2 separate regions of the Homo sapiens genome follow, and region 2 is linked to region 1. Evidence: fine-mapped expression QTL. A gene starts in region 1. The other region holds a variant in brackets. All regions are shown on one strand. Distances are between the middles of the regions.

Region 1 (10,065 bases):
TTCAGAGGAATCAGAAATAACCTGCTGGCCAGGCGTGGTGGCTCAGGCCTATAATCCTGCTATAATGCTAGCACTTTGGGAGGCCGAGGTGGGTGGATCACCTGAGGTCAGGAGTTTGAGACCAGCCTGGCTAACATGGTGAAACCCCGTCTCTACTAAAAATACAAAAATTAGCCAGGCGTGGTGGCGGGCACCTGTAATCCCAGCTACTCGGGAGGCAGAGGCAGGAGAATTGCTTGAACCCCGGGGGTGGAGGTTGCAGTGAGCTGAGATCATGCCACTTCACTCCAGCCTGGGTGACAAAGTGAGACTCCGTCTCAAAAAAAAAAAAAAAAAAAAAGAAAAGAAATAACCTGCTATGGTTCTACCATGTCTACTCAAGGCAACTATAATCAACCTGTGCTTTATTGTTTGATTTTAAAAGTTTTTAAGAGAATGCTAAAAATAAAAGAAGTGACTTCTCACTAACTAGAGAAGTAGAGAAGGTGTAGCCCCCTTTAAGGCATGAATCCATTGTTTCTACAGGAAAAGTTTTGCCTCAATATTCCCAGCCTGTAGTTAATTCTGTTTTAGGAAATATGTTTCTTATCACTGAGACACAGAACTGAAAATTCATTCTGTTACTTACCTACTGGTGAGATTTCCAAGTTAGGATTAGAGCTGCGGGTCTATTTTAGTTACCAACCATGGAGTGAAATTTTTACTGAAAAACAAAGGCTTGTTTTATTAGTCGCTGTGGAATTTAGCAGGTGAAGCTTTCTCTGGCGGCAGTATCTCTGCTTAGTTTTGATTTTCCTGGGAGGAAAATGAAGTGAGGCTTGTGCACCAATCAAACACGTGGAATGCCCATTGCTTTTGCAGAGAAACAAGCAGGATTGGAGTTCAAAAGTATTAACTTGAATAAAAATCCTTAGGAACACATCCACCCAGATTTTTAGTTAATGAGTATCATGCCAAGTCTCCCTGTTATGTTTCTTTTACACATGGAATTTCCATTGGTTTAGCTCTTAAAGAGGTCTGAAGCAGAACGGCATCCCTGTGGAAATCACATGTTTTATTTGGATTCCACAGGAGAAAAGAGCTGAAAAGGGCAAAATATTATTTCTATTAGAAATGTATTTACTTCAAGAAGATATGAATCAGTGCTAAAAATGTTTTTGCAGGATATACAAACATAAAATTACATCAAAACACTGAGGGGAGAAGGAAATGGAGAATTATTGTTTAATGGATACAAAGTATCATTTTTGGGAAGATGAAAAATTTCTGGGCTGGGTGCGGGGGCTCATGCCTGTAATCCCAACAGTTTGGGAGGCTGAGGCAAGAGGATCGCTTGACCCCAGGAGATCGAGACTAGCCTGGGCAACATAAGAAGACCCCCATCTCTTAAAAAAAAATACAAAAATTAGCCAAACATGGTGTTGCATGCCTGTAGTCCCAGCTACTCAGGAGGCTGAGGTCAAAGGACGGCTTGAGCCCAGGAGATAGAGACTGCAGTAAGCCCAGATTGCAGCACTGCACTCCAGCCTGGACAACAGTGCCAAATTTCTGGAGATGATGACGGTGAGTAATATTTGCACATCATTAGGAAGGAAATGGCACTTTAAATTTAGTAATTAATTTTTCACTTTATGTAAGAGATGTTAAGATCTTCATAGAAAATATCTGGCCTTTAATAAGCTGCAGAAGAGTTAGGAATTATTAATTGGAGATCCCTGGCTGACCTTATTTATCACTCATTTCATAATCTGTAATTAATGCAAGTTTGGTGTTGTGATTGCTTCCAAGTGTAGACTAGTTGATTTTGCCACAAATTTCTAAATTACTGGATTTAGTAGTAATTTAGTAAATTGCCACTAAATTACAAAGGGACGAGGATATAGTTTTAGACATAACTGCAAATATATCGATGTTTATGTTGGTGGTAAAAAAAAAAAGTAAGGAAACGACATATACCCATGTATGAACTAAAGAGAATGTAGAATGTGTAAATAAACTTTATGAATAACTAACCTTATTAGCTCTGTTAATTAACCCATCTACCTGTTTGAGCCAGTTGGCGAGTACGGAAAAAAAAAGTAGGAAAATTTTCCTTAAAATTTTCTCTCCTGATTCAGATTAACATATTCACTATCTACTGTCACCCACAAATGGCTTTTGAACAGCTCTCACAGTTCCGCAGTCAGGCTGATGCCATTATACAGATGTGGGTAAACTCCAAAGATCAGGAGCTGAGTGGGAGGAGACTGAATAGTGCACTTTCAAGGATTTCACAGTAGTTTCCTCAGTTGTTGAGAGACGAGATTGTTAGCTAATCCTGTCTCTGGGACTACTGAACTATTTAGCCTTAGGAAAACCACTATGCCTAGCTGGAAGGGCATTAGTTCCTTCCTCTGTTGACATGCATGGTTTCCAAAGTCTCCTTCCACTTTACACTCTGATTGCATGATTCTCCCCACCTGTGTGATTTTAATAGTTAAAGTCATCTAACCCATGGTAATTGTGACAGTTTTCCTGAATGGACCAGGCAGCCATGGAGGTGTGCAAATCCTTCTCCTGTTCTTGAGTCTGAGGAGAGAAAGTGGCTCCAGAACTCTGGTGCATGCTATAGAATGAGTGGGCAACCTTGTGTCTTGTGAATTGATGTCTTGGGGTTTGATTGCTAGGAGGGGAAACCTACTAAAATGATTCTTAACCAAATGGGGGGTTTACTGGAAGGACACGGAATTTTCGTAGAACTTAAGGGCAGAACATTTAGCTGGATCTCATAAGGGACTGGGGAATCAGAAACTGAAAAGAAGGGAACTAAGATGTTCACCTCTCAGATAAGTCTTCTCTTTTTCCATCTTTCTCTCCTTATCCTTATTTCCTTCTCATCATTCCTGTTGCTTTCCCCCTTTTCCCATCAGTTTTGAACATCTTACTCATGCCTAACCTAATTCTAGGTTTGGACATTTCTAATTTAGCATGCAAGAGTGGAGCCCTATATGTGCATTGCAAAATCCATGCATGTGAGACTTTCTAGGCCTGTTTGAGTTCAGTGTTCATATTTGGTCTGGTTTGCTGTGGCAATGAGTATGGTTCGTTCAGCTCAGTGCCCATTCAGAAGAGACTCTTGGAGCACATTATCTTAAACAAGGATTGGAAATGAATATGCTCCTTAAGATTATTTTGGTTGCAAGCAGCAGCAATCTTCTTTGACTAGCCAAAAAAAAAAAAGTTTTGGAATTATACAGGGATATCTCCTATAACCAAAGGAAACAGGGCAGGTCCTGGATCTTTGGCAAAGGGTGTTAATAGATTTTTTCTTTAGGGAACTGCCATTTGTGACTCAGTTCTACTGAGTAACTATATTCTCTCTGTGTTTCTCTATGCCTCATTTAAGATTTCTGGGGCAAAGAGTCTAAATGGTCTGGTTTAGGATATGCCCACCTCTGAATTAATCTGTTATGTAGACAAGGGACATGGTAGCGCAACCAACTTGTCTCAGTTTTCGCAAAACTATCCCAGTTTAAGCACCGAAAGTCCAGCATCCTGGTATCCCCCTGTCTTTAGCAAACCAGAGTAGCTGGTCACACTAGGACATGGTCGCTTGTGCATATGTGGCCCATAAAAGGACTGCCTCTATGTATTTCAGCCATTCCTACAAAAAAAGGAATTGTGAGAAGCTATAAGGAAACATTTCACAGAGTGTCTATTACATTCTACTTCTTGGCACCCAGCGTGGGCACACACACACACACACACACACACACACACACCCCCCACATCACACCACATACACACTCTCTTCTTTCCATCCTTTCAAAAATACACCTTGCCGCTATGTGAATCAGTTATTTCAAGTATCACCACAAATGGACTACTAACCTTCCCAATGGGAGAAAACCCAAACGCGTGACCTTTTACTTCACTTAGAGTTGATGTTATGCCCTCTAAGTACAGACTTTCTACACGATATCCATTCCTCATTTTCTTCTACTGTAATCCTATCTCCATATATTGCAATGTATGGCCTTTTGCTGGCAAAAGGAGAAAAAAAGAAAAATGTATGTATTATACCATTCCTTTTTAAAAAGGCAAAGAAAGGGCTTGGTGTGCAAGAGAGTATTTATTAAACACTGGTAGCAAAGAAAACAAACAAAAAATGCAACAGTCCTCATTACTGTAGCTGGTGTTGAAGCTTCTTTCTTCTGGGCCCATTCCATAGTTCCCTGTGACTTCAGTTAGCATCTCAGTTGGTTGGGGTGATTTGCTCAATGCAGCAACCTGAGGGGTATGATCCCTTGTGGTCCTGCCTTTATAGGGTTGTGGTAGCCGTCTATTGCCTTTACATCTGGGTATGGCAGTTCAAGAAAGCACCCTCAAGGATAAAACATGCTATTCATGATGTATTATTTTTCTTTGATGACTAGGACAATCCCCCTAGTCAACCCCATGACTCACTGTTTTGTCTATTCCCTTAGATGACCCCACGGATTCCGTTGCACGGAGTCTCTGAAGTCCAAAATTTTTAAGCATAGGGCACAACGTTCTTCATGATTTGGCCTTGTCTCTTCTCATTATGCTTGCTCTTGCATCTGCCATCTGACACTTTGCTTAACTCCTGGCCAGCTACCGGTACAAGCCAAGCTCTCACTCCATAACGTCCTTCTTCTCTGCATGCCCTTCTCCACTGTGCCTGTCCTTTAACTCTTATTCATCATTTATTTCAGTCTCAATTGAAGAGTCATTATTTCTAGAAAGCCTTCTCCGCCCAGCTCTCTACATTGCACCGTTCCCTACAGCACCACCAGAGTGCCTCTAACACTTGATGGTTTCATTGCTTATATATTTTTGTTTCTGTGCATAAGCCTCCCGAGGGAGCCGCCGCTGTTCGATTTATTCTATAGCTAGTTCCTCGCCCTGAGTGTAAGCCTCACGAGAGTGGGGCTGTCCTCTGTTCGCTCTATCCCCAGCCCCTACAGCAGTGCCTGGTTGTTCACAGGCCTATATAGCAGGTGATAATAATCTGAATAATGAAAGAAGAAACACTGTCTTGTGGCGTGATTTACTTCTGTTTTTACTTATGTCAACTTTTAACTAGATTGTGAGGACAGAGGTCAGTGTCTGAGTCATCTTGTGCCTCACTGGGCTTGGGCAGAATAGACGCTTGGTCAAGCATTTGCACACTGGTCGATGGATACACTAGAAAGAGCAGGAGCGCGAGAGGGAATTTTTTTGGCGCCTGCCTCGCCCTTTCAAGCCAAGCCCCTCTGCCCTCTGCCCCTTGCCAGCCGCCCGTCGCCCGCCGCCGGCGATCCCTCTCCCGGGGAGCGGTAGTCAAGCGAGGCCAGCGGGCCGGGAGCGGGCCGGGAGCGGGCGAGGGGCGGGACTTCCGGTCCCGCTCGCGACGCGGACCGCGCCAGGCGGAAGCCCGGCTCCGGGCCAGCATCCGAGAGCCCGGACTGGAGGTGAGTTCGCAGCCGGAACGTTGCAGGCACTTGTTTCCTCAGTGGATGCCTTTCGGCGCGCCGCCGCCCGGCGCCGCGGGACTGGGAGACCGGGTAGGGACGGGAGAGTCGGCATCTCCCGCGCGTGTGGAGGGAAATCCGGGACCCCAGGCTTGAGAGAAGGGCCAGGACTGAGAACGGGGAACCAGGAGAGCCCTAAGGGCAGCCTTTAGGGACTGAGGAGGGAGGCACCGGGGACCCTGAGGCCAAAGAGGCCCTGAGACTGGAGGTTGCGGATGACACGGGGCAGAGTTGCATCTCGGAGGAAAGTAGTCATTCGTGGGGGCGTGTCCCGGGTCCTGGCGGATTGACTGAGAGGATGGCAGGAGATGGCAAAGGTTGGCTTCCAGGGAGAGGTTACAGAGGAGGGAGTCAGTCCTTCTCTGAGGGTCGTAGGTGAGAAGGACGTCTTGACCTAACGAACCAGAAAGATGACCAGCCACCTATTGGATGCTGAACTCCTATTGCTTCATTTGCAATTCATGCAGTTTGTTTTTTGTTTTTAGAAATATATCCCGCTCCGCGCGTGTGGATTTCGGGAAAATATTGTATATTCCTAGGGACCGCTCGAATTCTTGCTTCACCCAGATTCTGCGTGTCTTTGTCAAACTGATAGTAGTTGAGAGTTCTCTTCACCCAAGGAAGACAACCAAAGTTTTCCTTTTGGACTCTTCTCTACCCTGCAGAGTTTAGCTTGTCTTATTTCCCTTGTCATGGGATGAACTAAATGCGTTCAGAATTATGGTGATAATCACATGGAAAGCCAGTGCTGTCAATGTTTGCAGTTTCAACTCATTGTTTTTCTGTCCAACTTTCTAACACATTTTTTCTAAAAGCTATTTTGTTGGGTTTAGTCTTTTAGTTTAACCAATAAAGGCAATTTTACATCAGGGTGCAGCAAATTACTAGCAGTTCTTAAGATTTTACTGTTCCTTTTTATTTCTGCTGTAAGGAAATATATATATATATATATATATATATATATAAATATTTGCCATTGTCAGTGTTTTTTAAAAATATTGATAACCCAAGATCTGTTGTTACACGCACATTAGCACATTTAGTTTTCCCCAGTGGCCAGTGTTTGGTATGTGGGCTCATTATTATTACCAAAGGTAATTATTGATTTAGTTATTATTTACCTTGCATTTATGTTTTATTGGATGTGATTAATATGTGCTTCCTAATCTACATAATATAGTGTTTCACTCAGTGTAATTACAAAGATTCTCCTAGCTTTTAAGTAGGTAGTAAGTGAATTGGATTTTTGCCACAAAGTGAGCAAGGTAGCTAGGAAGAATCATAACACTGTCACTGATGGAGGGTGAGATCTGATGATTGCTTTGCTTGTTTCAGGTGTTTCACATTTCAAATGTTAGAAGTTTTTGTTTTAAAAATTACTGTATTAGTACAGGTAACTTTTAGATCTGATTTGGTGGTCTGACTTGAACTAATTCAGGAAAACTAGAACATTTTATATTTATTGGTACTGCGATATCTTGCTAGCTTATAAATTCTTGATGGCCTTGAATATCTGTGCTTGAGTGAAATACACAGTTATAACGTCCTTATGTTTAGGAGGACTGCTGATATTTACAAGTGTAAAGCAAGGCCTAAACATAAACAGTGCCTTAACATGTAAATGAGCATATTGAATAAGTTTTCAAATTACAAAATGAAGAGATAACACTGATCTCTAAAGTAATTGAATTAACTGCCATGTTAATTTCTGTATATGTCTCAATTTAATCTTATTTGTTTAAGTAGACAATATTGTTTATCTGATAAGACTTGATTTTATTTTTCTTCCGCCTTTTCCCATGGTTTTTGAGAAATAAAGCACTTGAGAAAGCATGCAAGTCTTTAGACATTAGTTCATGGTTGGAGGAAGTGCTCGTTGTTGAAACACAAGAGCACTTGCCCTCTTGGGCAAGTTGGGCTAGCTATATATATGAATGGTATGTTGAGGTTGGATTGCCCTGTATTCCGGAAAATCTTTGGAATTGTATTCTTTCTTCTAATTGTTTAGTAAATTTAGCTTTCTCTCTAGATAAATTATTTTTGTTATTCCGTAGGATTTAGATGTATTTTACAGTTTAACCAATAATGGCAGTTTTTGATTAAGTACAGCGAACTGCTGGCTATTTTATAGATTCACTATTTCTTTTTATTTCTGAAATATGTACAGTGTCTGTATTGGAAGAACTATCAAAATAGTGATAACCAAAACACTGTCTTCATATACACATACATTTGTCTTCCTTAATCTCTAGTTTGTAAAATACGAAATAATTTGCTAAGTTGAGCTCGTTGCTTCTATGCCCTTTGGTTATCAATTTTCTGATTATATAGTACGTTCTCAATTATCGGCATACTCTAGTTAGAAAGCCATTTCCTGCCACTTGATAGAATCAAGAATATTTGTTACAATGGGGAAGTACAGTTTTTGGATGAGGAGCTACGAAAGACTGCTGATCTGTTAACTTAAGGTCCAGCTGCTGCACTGCCTCTGATGAAAAGCATGGCCCTTAATGAGGTTGACTCACACAGGGTTGACTGCTTTTAGTAATACTTTCTGTCCTTTTCCTCTGGTGAGTTAGACCTTTTCTCCAATAGTGACCAAGATGACTTGGGCCTCAGAGTGACTCAAAAGGGGATGAATCACTGCAGTCCTGTTAGTAGGGCCCTGTCCATTCTGCTGAATCTGATCCCATAAATCTTGGCACATTTTCCAGCCTATAGGCATGTAGTTATGACTGTGAACCTCTTGTTTAGGTTATTGTTTTAAAAATACTTTTAATACTAAATCATAATTTGTTGGATTATATAAATAGACTCAGTTTTGCTTTGAGTGAGGCATCACATTACACTGTAGATGAACTTTTCTGTTAAAGTGATAGGCTATAACTCACAATGGCAAATATTGTAGAAAACACACTGATTGCCCTTAACCTTTGTTGTTATTATTAGTTTTGTTTTTAATTTTGAGAGCCTAAGGAATAGAAGAACTATTGGATAAATGATTTGCATGGGGGGGTGGGGGAAGTTGACCACTACCAGTGACATACTAGGGGTCTTGATGGTGGGAGCTGTCTGCTATAGTTGGAAAGAGTATTTTAGCACTGAGGTTTAGAATTGCCAGCTCCTGGTGATAATACAGCAGAAAGACTTTTAGTTGTTATTATAGTTTTTGAATACCACACAGATGATGCACTCCTTTGTTACCTGGAGAGGGCTGGGAGGGGAATCCCTCCCACCTCTTGTGTGAATGACCTGGTGGAGCCTCCCACCTCTTGTGTGAATGACCTGGTGGAGCCTCTTGAAGCAAAATAGTACCAGTTTGATTTTCACTGTGTTAGTGTATAATTATGGTTCTCCGGAGAAACAGACCAATATCACATATATATGTGTATTTTTAAAAGAGATTTATTTTAAGAAATTGGCTCATGCAGTTGTGGGAGTTGGCAAGTACAAAATTTGTAGGTCAGACCAGCAGGCTGGAAATTTAGGCAGGAGTTGATTCTGTAGTTTTGAGGCAGAATTCTTTCTTCTTTGGGAAACCTCAGGTTTTGCTCTTAAGGCCTTCAGCTGATTAGATGAGTCCTACCAACATTACGGAAGGTAATCTCCTTTACTTAAGGTCAACTGATTGTAGACATTAACTACATCTACAAAATATGTTTATAGCAACACCTAAATTGGTGTTTGATTAAATACCTGGGTGCTATAACCTAACCATGTTGACACATAAGGCTAACCATGACAGCATTTAAAATACTTTTGCTGTATTAAACTAATATGTGGCGTGTAAAATGTTGCATAGTCAATAGGAGAATATTGATATGGTTTGGCTCTGTGTCCCCACCCAAATCTCATGTCGAATTGTAATTCTCAGTGTTAGAGGTGGAGTCTGGTGGTAGGTGATTGGATCATGGAGGTGGTTTCTAATGGTTTAGCACCATCCCTCTAGTGTTGTCTCATGATAGAGTTCTCACAAAATCTGGTTGTTTAAAAGTGTGTCCCACCTGCCCCTGTGCTCGTCGTTTCTCCTGCTCCAGCCATGTAGGACACACTGGTTTCCTCTTCGCCTTCTGCAATGATTGTAAGTTTCCTGAGGCTTCCCCAGCTATGCTTCCTGTACAGCCTGTGGAATTGTGAGCCAATTAAACCTCTTTTCTTTATAAATTACCCATTCAGGTAGTTCTTTATAGCTGTGTGAGAATGGACTAATAAAAGTATCAAAATTCATAGCCCAGTTACTTTTTAAGGGATTTAAAAACAGTGAAAATCTGGGTTTTCATTATGTCAAAGAATGGAAAATGGACAATTTAATGGCCCCTCCACTCTCTGACATTTAAAAGTTACTCTTTTTTTGTGGTTTTAATATGTTATATACATACACACACACACACACACATATCTTTTTTTTTTTTTTTTTTTGACACAGTGTCTCGCTGTGTTGCCTAGGCTGGAGTGCAGTGGCACGATCTCAGCTCACTGCAAGCTCCGCCTCCTGGGTTCAAACGATGCTCCTGCCTCAGCCTCCCAGAGTAGCTGAGATTACAGGCACCCG
Region 2 (10,065 bases), 29 kb after region 1:
TTGGTTGTTCCTCAAACATTTAGCTAATACTAAAAATCTTGGGAACTCTGTGTGCATGGGTTTCACTCTAGGGCTGTTAGTTGAAGATCAGATTTATTTTATTGAGACATTGCTGACTCTTAATATCTATAGCAGGGGTCCCCAACTCCCAGGTTGTAGACGGGTAACACTGTGTGGCCTGTTAGGAACTGGGCCGCACAGCAGAAGGTAAGTGGCAGGCCTGAGCTGTGCCTCCTGTCAGATCAGCAGCAGCATTAGATTCTCATAGGAGTGTGAACTCTATTGTGAACTGTGCATACAAGGCATCTAGGTTGCATGCTTCTTATGAGAATCTAATGCCCGATGATCTGAGGTGGAACAGTTTCCTACCGAAACCATCACCCCTGCCCACGTTGTCTGTGGAAAAATTGTTTTCCATGAAATTGGTTCCTGGTGCCAAAAAGATTAGGCACCACTTATCTATAGCCTTTTCTCTTGGGCTGATGTCTCTTTCCAAAGAAGAGTCTTTCTCCTGCCTGGGAGGTACAAGTTGCTACTAGTTTCTGACAGTTAAACAAAGGAAGAGAACTGAGAGGTAGGGAGTGATCTCACTGCTTAGTACAGAGATGCTCTTTAATTTACAGTAGCATTATATCCTGATGAACCCATTGGAAGTTGAGAATATCATAAGTCAAAAATGCATTTAGAGCCAGGCATGGTGGCTCATACCTGTAATCTCAGCACTTTGGGAGGCTGAGGCGGGTGGATCATGAGGTCAAGAGATCAAGACCATCCTGGCCAACATGGTGAAACCCTGTCTCTACTAAAATACAAAAAATTAGCTGGGCATGGTGGCATGCGCCTGTAGTCCCAGGTACTCGGGAGGCTGAGGCAGGGGAATTGCTTGAACCCAGGAGGCGGAGGTTGCAGTGAGCTGAGATTGTGCCACTGCACTCTAGCCTGGGTAACAGAGCAAGACTGTCTCAAAAAAAAAAAAATGCATTTAGTACACCTAGCTTAATGAAGCCTAATCTAGCCTGTCTTAAATGTGCTCAGAACACTTACATTAGCCTACAATTAGGCAAAAATCAACTAACAGCCTGTTTTATAATAAAGAGTTGAATACTTTATGTAATTTATGAAAACTGTACTGAAAATAAAAACCAGAATGGTCATATGGGTACCAAAAGTATGGTTTCTACTGAATGCATATTCTTTTCCCACCATGGTAAAGTCGAACTATTATAAATCAGGGACCACTGTATAAATTTAATCTCCCTGTTTTTGGTACAGTATCTTGGTTTTTTTGTTTTTTAGACCGAGTCTCACTCTGTCACCCAGGCTGGAGTGCAGTGGCATGATCTCGGCTTACTGCAACTTTTGCCTCCCAGGTTCAAGCAATTCTTGTGCCTTAGCCTCCCAAGTAGCTGGGATTATAGGCGCCCATCACCATGCCTGGCTAATTTTTGTATTTTTAGTAGAGATGGAGTTTCAGCATGTTGGCCAGGCTGGTTCTTGAACTCCTGACCCCAAGTGATCCACCCACTGAGCCTCCCAAAGTACTAGGATTACAGGCGTGAGCCACCATGCCTGGCCATTAGTACAGTATCTCTTTTTTTTTTTTTTTTTTTTCCCTGAGACAGTTTTGCTCTTGTTGCCTAGGCTGGAGTGCAGTGGTGCTATCTCGGCTCACCACAACCTCTGCCTCCTGGGTTCAAGTGATTCTCCTGCCTCAGCCTCCCGAGTAGCTGGGACTACAGGTGCCCGCCACCACACCCGGCTAATTTTTTGTATTTTTAGTAGAGATGGGGTTTCACAGTGTTAGCTAGGATGGTCTCAATCTCCTGACCTTGTGATCCGCCCACCTCGGCCTCCCAAAGTGCTGGGATTACAGGTGTGAGCCACTGCGCCCAGCCAGAAGGGTTCTTAAAAAAATAAAAATAATTACAAAACCCCAATTTGTGCATAGTTATACCATTTAGTTAAATACTATATGTACACAACTTACTGTCATCAAATTATTATTATAATAAATGCAAAGGTGAGTAGAGCACCTGATTAATCTTGGACACAGATTTTGTCTTATTTATCATTGTGATTCCATTACATAGCACAGTGCCAGACATATAAAATGCTATTAATAATATGTTTGAAAGAATGAATTAATGACTAAATCAGTGTGTATATGCTAATTAGTGTAGTACATACCTTTTTCATCTGTAAATTTTTCTTTTGTTAGCATATTTTATTTTCTTTCTCTACATATTTGACTCCTTCCTTTTAAAAGCTTATTATACATTATTTTAAGTAGTTTTATTTTTTAGTAGGATCTCATAACACTAAACAAACCTGTATTTGTCAAACATTTATGCATTGTTTACTGTGTGCCTGGTGCTGTTCTTAAACCATTTAATCCTCATTAATAACCCTATAAGGTGGTTACTGCTAATATTCCATTTACAAGAGGAAACTGAGGCACAGAGAAGTTAGGTACTCACTCAAGGTTATCCTGCTAGTAAGTGTCAGAGCTGGACTTCTTGAACTCATGTCTGGGTTCCAAAGTTTATGTGTTTAACCACTACGCTAGACAGACTCCTATTTTTAAAAAGTACCAGCTCTAAAAATTATTTCCATCTCCAGAAGACTGCCCTTACTAGTGGGGCTTTTGTTATTTATAGTAAATTTTATTAAAATAGAAATTTTCAAATGGTAATATTCACTGTACTTGTCTTTTATCATCAAGCTATTTAATGAGTATACTGTTTTATTTTTAAAAGTGATATTTATTATAAGCATATTTGATGTCTGTGTGCTAATAATTATATGGATAAAATATTGATATTGGTAAAATTTGGCATTATTTCAAAATGTGATGGAATATGTATGTGTGACTGTTGGAGTGCTTTACTTTCTGTTGGTATTGGTAAAGTATTCTTTCTGGCTGAAGCATCTCTGAAATATCAGAGGAAAAATGGGAGGTGGGATCCAGAGGGATTGGAATTTTAGACATCTTTCAATTATTTTTGTCATTTGTGATAAGTACCTAATGAATTTTGAACCTAGTAATGCCCTTATGTGCTAACTATTTTGGTACCTGAGGAACTGGAGTGTTTCTGTTCCTTACCTTGTTTAGTGGTCTAGGAAAGAGGTCTGAAGATTCAAACTCTAGTCTAGTTTAAGTTTGTGTTTGATAGTTTACAAATCAAGGTGCTTAAATTCACACTTTATTTACTGCTATATGCAGCTCTTTTTTAAAGCCTTTTGTGATATTTTTTGGTATTTTGATTGTTTAAAGCCCTCAGGTAGCCTAATTAAAAATGGGATGTCCAAATTCACGGAGGCATCTGTTAAATAAAACCTGTCATTTTAAAAAAAAAAAAAAGGAATTGTCTGTTTTATTCTATAGCCACAGCAGAAGGGTTAAATATGGACAGAACACTATTTGTCCTTTTAGGTATTACTGTTTTAGAAGGAGATTATAGCTATACTTTCTTTTTTATGCCTTCCCTCTTTCCCTAGATAATTAGTACTTTTATAAATATAGTGTCTGGCAGAAATTGCTTTATATTAAATATCAAAAACAGCAATCAATAGTGACAGCGATCCATGTATATTAGTATTTTCCAAAGTATGTTCCATGGGAGATGGCTTGCTGGAATATGGTTTTATAATCATAAACTGAGGAACAATTGCATAAATACTGCCCCTCCCAACATACAAACATGCATCTGTTAACACACAGGCTTTGGAGAGTCACAGTATACATTAATTTATTAATGGTACTAAGAAGTCCTGTGGTAATAAAAATGGATTTAATTTTGTTTAGCTCAACATTTCCCACATTGTTTGACCTCAGAACCTTTTCTTTCCTAATCTTATGGTTGTCTGATGCACTTTATGCTCCACAGATGACTCTTTGGGATATAATGCTATATTCTGTGACAGTGTAACAGTAGATCTATTATTTTGATGAGGTTTCAGAATAGTAGCCCATCAAAAATATGCCATTATTAGTTCATTCGTAGTTAATAAATGGATTTTAGGAATGGCATTTAAAAATTATTAGAAATTTGAGGTGGAATGCATCTTCCTTGAATTTATATAACATTGGACCTTGCTTTTATAGACACATTACTTACCGAGGACTTTAATCTCTCACTTGATATATAATGAGAGAATGGTAAACCTCATTAATTTTGACTAATCGGGGAAGCTAGGCAAATCCAAGATAGTATTAAAAAAAACAGAATAGTTTTAAGAAATGCAGTGTTATCACTGCAAATACTGTGTCTAAAATTATGCCAACATAGAAGATTCTGGGTGGAAATCCTTTAAAGAATAAATAACAGTGACTTGTAATTAGTTCAGTTGCAAATATATATGTACTTCTGAAATAAGTGACATTATTTAAAATATTTTTTTCAAAAGTTTTAGCTTTTATTACATGTATCTTATTTACACTGTTTGCTTGCTAAACCATTTCTTTATAGAGTAGTCTGTTTCAAATTTCTAGTATGGTATGGCTCGTAAAAATTTACTGAGTGATCTATATCCTAATTGAGAATATGGAATGAAACATGGAAATAAGGCAGGGGAGAGACCTTCTCTAATGAAGGATGGGGGGGGGAAATTTCTTTTGAGCAGTGATAAAAATAGCAAACAAGAACAAACATTTGACTATTATTGCTGAAAGGAGTGATTAATAATTAACTAAAAGGAAAAGCATCTGCTTCTTGAGTTCTGTAAAAGTCCAGATTGAAGGCCAAGAAGTATTAAATCACAATAGCAATCAAAAGACAAGAAAGAAAAATGAAAACATGGTGGAAGAGAAAGATGAAATTGTAGCAACCAGGATGGTTAGTTATTGGGGAGGCCCCAAACAGATAACATTCCACAGGAGAGTCAGCATTAAAAGACGCAAAAGCCCCAGAAAAAGTAGATAAATCATGTCACTCTTGTTTTTACGCTGAAGATATAGATATATTATACCCCTGTTGAAGTGTGGTGCTGGGGCTAGGAAAGGCACCCATGGAATTACGATAGTCCTTAAAGTACTACCTTTTTACATGCTAAGTGTTTATCTCTAGAATGTATCCAGAGTATTCTCCAGTCTTTGTATTTTTAAAACAGCATTTACACATTTGTTTCCTAAAATCTCATCATATCAGTTGTTTTTATCAGGCTTTAATAGACCTGATGTGTTGAGGTTCCCTCAATTCCCTTTTTGCTTCCTTTGTTTCTTTTTATTCCTTTGTGATGTAAGACAGCATAGTAGCATCACCTCATTTTATAGGAATGGGGAAATCAGGTTGAAGATTAAGTGGCTTGTGTACGGAGTGAAAGGAAGGAGGCTTTCAAGTGTAGCTTAGAAAACAGGAGTTTAGTATTTTTATAGGGAAAGAATATGATGGCTAATTTAGCAGGTTTTCTGAATTAAACTTATGCTTGATTGTACGCTTAAGTATTAAATCTTTCAAGTATTATCTATATCAGTACTGACTAATCTGCCTTCAGTTATATAATGGATAGCCGATCCAGCCTTTCCTTTTAAGAAAATCCTTGATGTATTAGACCGTTAAAACAAATTCTAACATTTGGTGTTCATTAGTGTTGTAACTGAAACAAAAACATTTTAATGGTTAATCCCAGAGTATTTTGAAGTTAGTGTAAATTTGCAGGAAAGGTATTTAAGCTTTAGTATCAATTGCAAATAGGCCATGAGCCAATTTTCAAAGCTGTTTCTTAGTGAGACATTGAG[T/A]TTTTCTCAATACAAAAAATGCGTTATGCAGCATTGTGCCATGTGACAAGGAAACAGAATGGAACAATTACAATGAGATTTGTATTGATAATTGTATTTCTGTGTGAGTCGTTTAAGATACTGGGAAGCAAAGTGAGATTTAGAATAACCCCCCAGCAACTTCAACAATTGCTTACATTTAGTTGTAGACCACGAAAGAGGTATTTTTAATATAAAAGGATGGGTATTGCTGGGCAACAATTAAAACTTCAAACTCAACATTTAGGGTTTAGCCAACTGACTTTACTAAAATGGAATGCTTTAACTTTTTGACTCTATATTTCAGGAAAATTGCTCATTGTAGTTTATTAAGGTAAAATGACTTTTTGTGATGTAGTGCTAAAAAGGTCAAATCTCCACTTAAAATATTAGGTTGGTGCAAACGCAGTTGCAGTTTTTGCCATTGCTAGCTTTTGGTAGTGCTAAAGAGTTTTGCAAAAATGATTTTTCTTTTAAAGAATATTTAAATTAATTTACTTTGCTTTTGGTAAATGCCAAAGAAAGGCACAGTGAAGTATTGTAAGTGCATTCAAAATCGATTCTTCATCCGTTCATTTGTCATCCTAAAGTGAAAAAAAGAAGTGGAAGACAATTATTAGATGGATAGTAAATATAATCTAATGATTTATATGTTGTTCTGACATTTAACCATAGATACTGTTGCTTAAAAGGACTCTTGAAAGAAAATCTCAGCATATTTTTTATTCAAAGTTGTTTTGACTTAGGTACTTTTTCCATGTAAGAGACAAAAATCCCACAAATATTAAATCTATTTCAACAAGTGTTTTTGAAACATTATGTAGATTTGCAATGCAGTTTCATTAGCACAATAAATATTTCTTAATGCTGTGCTTTTTGAGTTTCTGGATTTTTGAACAATATGTTTAGGTCATTTTGAATTATTATTTACTTAATATTATTTATTATGACTGTGAACTGATTTGTTTATGTGTATGTATTTGTGTGTTTTGGCTCTATCTGTATCTCAACAAGACCATTTAATGTCAGCTCTATCACAAGATAATTTACTTTTTTCCCCTCTATGATATATAACTTTTGGGATAGAAATTTGTTTTGGGGTGTAATTTTTGGAAATGTACTAGCCACTTGACATGCTTTAATATTCAAAATAATTCACAGTGAATCTGGATTTTTAGTGACTAGTCAATGTCCTTGGTAGACATTTTTGTTTTGATTGATGAAGTTCATTTTACCAGTTATTTTTACAAGGCTTCTGCTTTTTGTATGCTGTCTAAAACAATCTTTGCCTAACCTAAGGTCTTGAAGATTTATTTCTAGATTTTCTTCTAGAAATTTTATAGTTTTTGGCTTTTTCATTTAGGTCTATAATGCATTTTGAGTTAATTTTTATGTATGTTGACTATGGATTTTTTTCTGTTTTGAAAATGTTTGCACAGAGAGACAACTTTAGTGACAGTGTGGAGGTTGCAATGAAAAGAGTGAAAAGGCCAGATGTGGTGGATCATGCCTGTAATCCCAGCACTTTGGGAGGCCAAGGCGGGCGGATCACCTGAGGTCAGGAGTTCGAGACCAGCCTGGCCAACACGGCAAAACCCCGTCTCTACTAAAAATACAAAATTAGCTGGGTGTGGTGGCGCATGCCTGTAATCCCAGGTACTCGGGAGGCTGAGGCAGGAGAATCGCTTGAACCCGGGAGGCAGAGGTTGTGGTGAGCTGAGATTGTGCCATTGCACTCCAGCCTGGGCAACAAGAGTGAAACTCTGTCTCAAAAAAAAAAAGAGTGAAAGGACAGGGAATATGAGTTGATAATGACTAGAACTAGGATAGCAGTTCTGCATATCAAAAAAGCAGGGAAGAGGAGAAATCTGATGACATTTTAGAGACAATGAATTGGATGGGGAGTGAGCATGGAGGCAGAAGTAAAGATGCATCTAAGGCTTGTGGTTGCAGGAAGTAGAATGGCCTGTGGCCAAAACTAGAATATAGGACAAAGGGAAGTTTTATGATTCTCCATTGTGATGAATGGAGAAGAGTTCTGTTTTCAAACTGTTGAGTTTATGTGATAGCAGGACATTCTGTCCTTGTCCACATGTATACATGTTGAGGAATAGTCAGATTCTTAGTGAAAACATTTTTTGTTTAATTCACTGCGACTAATTTTTTATGTTATTGCATAGTTTCCGTTGTGATAATTTTTGTAGCTTCTCAACAGTATTTAAATTTTGTTGTGAAACTATTATATCTATTATATAAAATGATTAAAAAAATAATGCCACTAAATAGATTTCTACTGTATTTCCCTCCTCTGTTTCCAATACAACTTGACCATTAATAAGGATATTCTGTCGGTGTTTGTCTAGATATGCAGACATCTCATATCATTCTTTCCACAGAGGTAAAACTGTATTATCCTTATTTATTTTGATGCTCATATTATCCCAGGCATGGCCAGTGGAAATGACATACGTTAAGCTAACTATTGTGTCCTTTTGACATGTCCTCATAGTTATTTGAGAACTTTCTTAAATTCTGTCATAATAAGATATTCTAGGCTCATCTTATACTTTCCCTGTTCTAGTCCTGTACTCAGCCATTTCATTCAAGGGTCCTGGTTATTTTTAGTGGAGAATGGTATTTAGAAACAAAGATCTGAACACTGGGTGTGCTCATTGCTATGAACACATCATTTCTTTTAGGTTTTGTCAGTGGAGAGAGCTTATAAGTTGTATTTACACATATAAAAATGTGTATGTGCATATACACACAGGAATATAGATAGTACACATATATCCATATTTATTTTCTATATCAAACCATCTTTATAAATAACTATAAGTTTACACCTATACCTCCAATTCCAATCCAATCCAATAGATTATTTTTTTTTCTGGCCTTTTCCCTTTCCTTGTTTGCAATTCCCTCCTCTTGCAGTGGAAACCTGGATTCTATTAAGTCAATATATTTTGCTCCAAGACACACCAACCCCCACCCCCAATAGCCATGTGCAACCCAGGGGGAAGGGAGAAGGATAAAAGGGAAGGGAGAAGGAAGAAAGTTCCTCCCAGTGAATTTTTTTTTGAATTAGCCCAATGGTTAAAAATAATAGAAGAAAGGAAGGAGCCATGTAGAATTTTAAACTTGTGACTAGTCAGTTTTGTCCATCTTTCTCTTTTTTAATGGCTTTTGGCTTTTATGTCACAAATAAAGGTTATGAAAATAAACTTCATAGTACTTTTTATGCCTTTTTTTTTCTTGGTTTCTGTGAACCTATTGGTTTTTTTACATTTTAATTTTCAGTACACCTGAGATTTTTTGGGGGGAATATTTTAGGATCTAATTATATTTTATTTTTCTGAATGGATAACTAGTTATTTCAACATTCATATTGATTGATTTATCTTTTCTCCATTGATTTGAAATGCCATCTCCATTGTATCCTGTTCTACATTGTTCTTTTACTATATTCTTCTGTTCTTTTTATCTGTTTGTTTTTTAAATTGCATGCCCGATAGTGGGACACTGTAGTATTTATCGCCTAGAGTGATTGTGAGCATTAAATGAGAATGCACATAAAATGGTCAGTGTGGTGCCAGTCGTGTAGTATAAAATGGTCAACACGTATTAGCGACTATTAGCATCTCAATATAAAAGGAATAAACTTTACAAACAATAGGAGAGTAAATTACAAAAAAAGTAAAAATTATAGTAAGTAGTGGCTTTTTAAAAAAAATAAAAACTTGTAGGATTCTTAATTTTTATACTTTGTGTATGGAATGGCAAAAGTTCATATTCTTTATATACAGATAAATTATGTGTAAAAATGTGTCCAATATTAGATAAAGTTAAGCTATTTAGACTTACAGATGTCCTGGATTGCAGGCTCTTTGAGGGCAGAGACTGTGTCTTATTTCATTTAACAAATACCTGTGCAGCACCTCACTGTGCCAGGGTTTGAGCATAGAATAGGATATAATATCTACCGTGAGCAGCTCACAGGCTAGTTGGGGAAACAGACATATAAATAAATAAATATAAATAACATGCAGGGGCTAATATATGTATAGCAGTGTACTTAGTTGTCTTCCATTAATGTGGAAATATTTATATCAGAGCTCTACACATTCACTGAGGCATTTTTCTAAATATGGGGATGGGATGAGAATACTTAAATAGTATTTCTATGCTGACTTCCCATGAACTATGTCCCAAAGTGCTTGATTGTACCTCACCATATCTTTATATAATACCACAAAGAAGGCAAAAAGTCACATTTTTGGAGTGTGTCTTTTGTATTTTCTGCTTTTAAT

Direction of the effects. Alleles are on the strand shown, and positions count from the first base shown. SD is a standard deviation of normalised expression in the study named.
With allele T in place of A in region 2, the expression in tibial artery of the gene that starts at base 5,414 in region 1 is higher (small effect, 0.21 SD a copy in GTEx).

The links.
Region 2: its variant is fine-mapped to the expression of DISP1 in tibial artery (GTEx, PIP above 0.99).

What each region holds. Positions count from the first base shown.
Region 1 is chr1:222,809,626-222,819,690 of GRCh38, forward strand. It overlaps DISP1 (dispatched RND transporter family member 1), which reads left to right and starts at 5,414. Exons shown (of 9, transcript NM_001377229.1): 1 at 5,414-5,453. RefSeq lists an enhancer at 4,805-4,864 and silencers at 5,105-5,184, 5,275-5,374.
Region 2 is chr1:222,838,967-222,849,031 of GRCh38, forward strand. The region is part of intron 1 of DISP1 (dispatched RND transporter family member 1); the gene reads left to right. Among named protein-coding and RNA genes, the nearest start is that of DISP1, 29 kb to the left of the region's middle. The variant T/A (reference allele first, on the strand shown) is at 5,738.